2 separate regions of the Homo sapiens genome follow, and region 2 is linked to region 1. The links come from fine-mapping of genetic effects on gene expression. A gene starts in region 1. The other region holds a variant in brackets. All regions are shown on one strand. Distances are from middle to middle.

Region 1 (2,923 bases):
GTTTCACTCGTCACCCAGGCTGGAGTGCAATGGCACGATCTTGGCTCACTGCAACCTCTGCCTCCTGGGTTCAAACTATTCTCCTGCCTCGGCCTCCCAAGTAGCTGGGATTACAGGCACTGCCACCATGCCTGGCTAATTTTGTATTTTTAGTAGAGACAGGGTTTTGTCATGTTGGCCAGGCTGGTCTCAAACTTCTGGCCTCAGGTGATCCACTTGCCTCGGCCTCCCAAAGTGTTGGGATAACAGGCGTGAGCCACTGCGCCGGGCCCATACATATGCATTTTTAAAAACTTATTTATTTATTTCGAGACAGGGTCTCACTCTGTTGCCCAAGCAGGAGTGCAGTGGTGCTATCTCCCAGGCTCAAGCAATCCTCAGCCTCCCGAGTAGCTGGGACTACAGGTGTGTGCCACCACACCCAGATAATTTTTATTATTTTTATTTTTTAAATTTTTTGTAGAGATGGAGTTTCACCGTGTCACCCAGGCTGGATATTTTTGTATTTTTGATAGGCCTGTACAGTTTCCAAAGTTGCAACCTTTTCCCCTCCCTGAGAGTAGGGGCAGCCCCTGCTCTCCCTCTACATCCTCCACAGTCCCGAGGTTTTGGCCTCTGTTTCCTCCGTTTCCTATGCTTGGAACGCCAGTGGCTCTTTTGTTGGTCTGGCTGACTCCTGTTCCTCTTTTAAAAATTTAAGTTTGGCCGGGCGTGGTGGCTCATGCTTGTAATCCCAGCACTTTGGGAGGCCGAGGCGGGCGGATGACCTGAGGTCATGAGTTCGAGACCAGCCTGGCCAACACAGTGCAACCCCGTCTCCACTAAAAATACGAAAATTAGCCGGGTGTGGTGGCATGCGCCTGTAATCCCAGCTACTTGGGAGGCTGAGGCACGAGAATTGCTGGAACTGGGGAGGCGGAGGTTGCAGTGAGCTGAGATCACACCACTGCACTCCACCTGGGCAAAAGGGCAAGACTCGGCCTCAAAAGAAAATAAATAAATAAATAAATAAAGTCAAGGGGGTAACACCTCTTCGTAACTCTCCTGTTGTTTCTCATGCCAGCATCACCATAGCCTTGAGGCTCTGAGGTAGGTCACTTCGTCGAGCTCGTTTCCGTGAGGATAACGTTATCTTGGGTGTCTGTGAGACTGCTGCACTGAGTATAGAGCCCAGGCTCCTGGGTCAGCCGGGTTCGAATCCCCTTTCCTCCGTGAAGATCTGGGTCAGTCACAAGTGCTTCAGTTTCTTCGATTTGACTGAGGGAGGCTTTGACTCCAAAAAATTAACACTTGAGTGTACCCGGCCACAGCTTAGCACATCCAGGGTGTTTCCACCCTTTCTTCGGGATCCTCAGGGCTGGATGGAGCCGGTCCTTCCCGTCTCTCCTTATACTCACGCACTAGCGCTGGCTGGAACAAGTCCTCCAAGTAGAACGAGGAGCGGGTTTCAGCGGCGCTCTAGCCCGCCGAGAGCATACGCCCTCCCCACGCGGGGCCGCTGATTGGCTGAAGGTTGCGCTGGCACGCGCAACTTCCGGGACAGAGGCTGTGGCTGGAAGGAGCTGGGCATCCGGCCTGAGGCGCAGCGGTCGCGTTAGTTCGGCCCAATGGCGGCACCGCTGCTTCACACGCGTTTGCCGGGAGATGCGGCCGCTTCGTCCTCTGCAGTTAAGAAGCTGGGCGCGTCGAGGACTGGGTAAGATTCAGGCCGCTTCCTTCTGCGTATCTGGGACGAAAGCTCAGGACGGCGCTTAGAGGAGCGGATTGAAAGGATGTGGGACAAAGCTCATGGCGTGTGATAGGAGCACGGGGTGGAGGGTCATCTCACGTTCACAGAAATGAGCTCATTCCTCCTAACTGGGTAATAGACATGGGTGGGGCCTGGAAAAGTGACTATGTTCTCTGTTCTGGAGGCCCCCTTTCCCGACTGTGTCTCTTCGTGATTTCCCAGGCCTGGGTACTGCCTTCTGCGCCTTGACCCCTCTTCCTTCCCTCTTCTTCGTCCAAATTTGGAAGGGATTTCCCTGGGCTATGTGGGTTATCAGCCGAACGTCGTCACTCATGGCAAATTGAATATTACATCTTTTTTGTTTGGAATTTGTTTCGACACACGTATTTGTTTCGCAGTCTTTATTTTGCTCCACTTTTAAAATCCCTAACCCCCGTAGCACTCTTGGCGTTTAACTTTCAGAGTCATTAGGATGCTATGTTTTTTCATTAATTTACTACGTGTAAGTGAAGCAAACCTTGTAAAACAATTAGCGTAATATGATTCATAATAATTATCGAGCTCCTGCTTACTGTGTTAAACACTGGGGACAGTGGTTTATCCAAAGACACTAATGTCCCTGCTTTCTACAGAGCTTACAGCATAGGGGGGAAAGGCAGTACATAGGCCAATAAATAAACGAACACGATGATTTCAGTTATACAACAAGGTAATGGGGGAGGGAGAAGGGAGAGAAGGAGCTTTTGAGATTTCTCATTGGGAAGACATCTGTCATTTGAGCTTCCACTTGAATGAAGACAAAAATCTAGGCCGGGCGCGGTTGCTCACGCCTGTAATCCCAGCACTTTGGGAGGCCGAGGCGGGCGGATCATCTGAAGTCAGGAGTTGGAGACCAGCCTGGCCAACGTGCGAAACCTCGTCTCTACTGAAAATACAAAAATCAGCCGGGCATGGTGGCAGGTGCCTGTAATCCCAGCTACTCAGGAGGCTGAGGCAGGATAATTGCTTGAACCCGGGAGATGGAGGTTGCAGTTAAGCCAAGATCACACCACTGCACTCCAGCCTGGGCAGCAGAGCAAGACTCCATCTCAAAAAAAAAAATCCAGCCACGTAGAGATTTGGGAAAAGAGTATTTCCAATAGAGTGAACAGTAAGTGAAATGAAAAACAGCTTGGCTTGTTTGAAGAGCAGAAA
Region 2 (2,923 bases), 590 kb after region 1:
GAACATGTATACATGTATTTGTTTTTTATTGCTAAACTACTTGAGAGTCAGAGACATAACAGTTTGCTTAGAAGTATTTTAGTGTATTTCTCTTAAGAACACAGGCTTTTTAAAAATATTGCCCTAATATATTTATCACACTCAGGAAATTTAACACTGATATGATTTTGATATGATCTAATGTCCATGCTGTAATCAAATTTCCCCAAATGTCCTAATAATGTCCCTTACAGTTTTTCTATTTTTATTTTTGGATCCAAGCTCCAGTCAAAGTCTTGTGTTACTTTTAGTCATCATGGCTCTTTAGTCTTTAGTCTCCTTTAATCTGGAATAGTTCCCCAGCCTGTTTCTTATTTTCACAAGATTGACATTTTTCTGAGGAGTTCAGATCAGTTGTTTTACAGTGTCCTTCAATGTGTATGTTTCTGATTGTCTCATGATAAGATTCAGATTAAATGTTTCTGGCGGGAGTACCACGTAGTTGATGTGCTCTTTTCAGTGCATCACACTGAGAGGCACATGGTATCAGTTTGTTCCCTTATTGCTGATGTCTGGTTTGACATCATTTAGGTAAATAGTGGTCACAGATTTTTCCATTGTAGCCTTCCTGCTTTGTAATAAATAAGTACTCTGTGAGTAATACTTTGAGACTGTGAAACCCTGTTCCTCAGTAATCTTTCATCCAGCAGCATTAATGTCCATTGATGATTTTTTTAAAAAATGGATTGCTTTTAAAATTTTGTGACCTCTTTGTGCAAGGATGTCATTCAAATTTTAGTTCACATGTTGCCAAAGCTGACACTAGAATTATTTTCAGAAGTTTAATTGGTTGATATTATTTTGTGAATTGTGTGCTTTTCTTGCTGATTTATAAGTACACCTACATCATGATTATTATTTATTACATTTAATGAACCATTGGTTATTAGGTACAAGACATGGTTCTGAAATCCTTATAATTGTATGAACCACAGGTATCTTCCCCCTCCCCTCATTTTATAGGAGAAAATGATGCTTAGATTAATCCTGAGTTTTGTATTTTGCAAATACTTGTCCCAATTTGTTGTACAGTTTTGTGTGTGTATGTGTGTGTGTGTGTGTGTGTGT[T/GTT]TTAAGAGACGAGATCTTGCTTTGTTACCCAGTATTCACAGGTGTGATTATAGCACCCTCCAGCTTCAGCCTTTAACTCCTGGGCTCGAGGTCCTCCCACCTCAGCCTCTGGAGGAGCTGGGACTACAGGCGTGCGCCACTGTGCCCAGCTATTCTTAATCTAGCCTATGTTGCCGAACCAAAGCTTTACATTTTCCATAGTATATCTGTCAGTTTATTCTTTTATAGTTTCTGGCTTTAGTGTCCTATTCAGAAGCATTAACATTTAATTTATTAGGAATGAGGTTTGTTCACTTGCCTTTCAGTAAGTAAGATTGCCAGATTTCACTTAAAATAGCTGTGTGCCAAATATTGTATGATATACTAAACAGTGATATGTAATTTATCTGAAATTTGGCATCTTGCATTGTTATGTGGTAACTTTATCAGTAAGACTTTCCCTGACCACTTAATTTAAAATCACAACCCACATCTCAGTACTGCCTGCTTTTTGTTTTCTCCATAGCACTGCACGTACACTGTATATTTTACTTTTTTGTTTAGTGTCTATATCTCACCACTAGAATGTAAGATCCATGAAGTCAGGCTTTTTATTTTAACTTTTAAATGGAGGCTTAACATACATATAGGAAAATACCCATATGAAACTGTACTGCTTAACGAATTGTCTTAGGAGGGCAAAGATTTTTTTATTCTAAGTTTTTCTCAATGCTTAAAATAGGTGATCAGCAAATATTTGTTGATTGAGTCAATGGTATAACCTATGAGAGAGGCATTCATGTTACTTTTTCCCAAATAGCTAGCCAGAGAATTTATTGATTATATTTTGTTTGGTTATTATTGCTTTGAAAGCGTATTTTTTCTCCCCTCTCCCTACTTTCTCCCTCACGTAATTTTTATTTATTTTATTTATTTATTTTTTGAGACGGAGTCTTGCTCTGTCACCCAGGCTGGAGTGCAATGGCGCAATCTCTGCTCACTGCAACCTCCGCCTCCTGGGTTCAAGCTATTTTCCTGCCTCAGCCTCCCGAGTAGCTGGGATTACAGGCTCATGCCACCATGCCCGGATAATTTTTTGTATTTTTATTAGAGACAGGGTTTCACCATGTTGGCCAGGCTGATCTCCAACTCCTGACCTCGTGATTCACCCACCTCGGTCGCCAAAAGTGCTGGGATTACAGGTGTGAGCCACCGTGCCGGCCTCCCTCAACCTCACATAATTTTTAATGAATATGAATAGCATAATTATTTAACTATTCTCCTACTATTAAACATTTGTTTGTGTTTTGAAGACATTTTTAATTTAAAAATTTACGTATCCTTGTGCATTAAAAATTAGTCCTCATTTCAGATTGTTTTCATAGGATGATTTCCTAAAAGAGGAATTACTAGGTCAAAGGATATGATCCTCTCTAAGCCCCTTCTCGTTTAGACAGAACACTCACTGACAGTCAGTAGACCTCTCTGCTGAAGAAGGCACACACAAGGACTGTTGATATCATGCCCTTGGTTCACTGCTTCTAAGAACAATTTACCACCATCTGCTAGCAGAGTAGGTGGTCATTACTTTGTATCTTCCTTGACATCAGCTCCTTGCAGCATTGTATGATTGAAACATCTTGAATTTGTATTCCAGTTCTCCTTATACCAGCTGCAAGACTATGGACAAGCCATTCAACAGGGTCTTCAGTTTTCTGTATAAAGTGAGGGTAACAGAGCCTACAGCATTGGCAGCGTGTACTACCTGTGATATAATCTCAGGAAATGATAGCTACCACCCTGAGGCAGGTGACCGTGCTTCTCAAAACCTGCCCAG

What was found. PIP is the estimated chance that this variant, and not a neighbour inherited with it, causes the effect.
Region 2: its variant is fine-mapped to the expression of RRN3 in transverse colon (CEDAR, PIP 0.92).

Annotation. Positions count from the first base shown.
Region 1 is chr16:15,092,918-15,095,840 of GRCh38, reverse strand. It overlaps RRN3 (RNA polymerase I transcription factor RRN3), which reads left to right and starts at 1,569. Exons shown (of 18, transcript NM_018427.5): 1 at 1,569-1,696. The coding sequence starts at 1,608. It overlaps LOC100505915 (a long non-coding RNA gene), which reads right to left and starts at 1,430. Exons shown (of 4, transcript NR_125434.1): 1 at 1,030-1,430. It also overlaps a transcript of PDXDC1 not described here. RefSeq lists an enhancer at 1,295-1,589.
Region 2 is chr16:14,503,665-14,506,587 of GRCh38, reverse strand. The region is part of intron 21 of PARN (poly(A)-specific ribonuclease); the gene reads left to right. Among named protein-coding and RNA genes, the nearest start is that of LINC03107, 76 kb to the right of the region's middle. The variant T/GTT (reference allele first, on the strand shown) is at 1,108.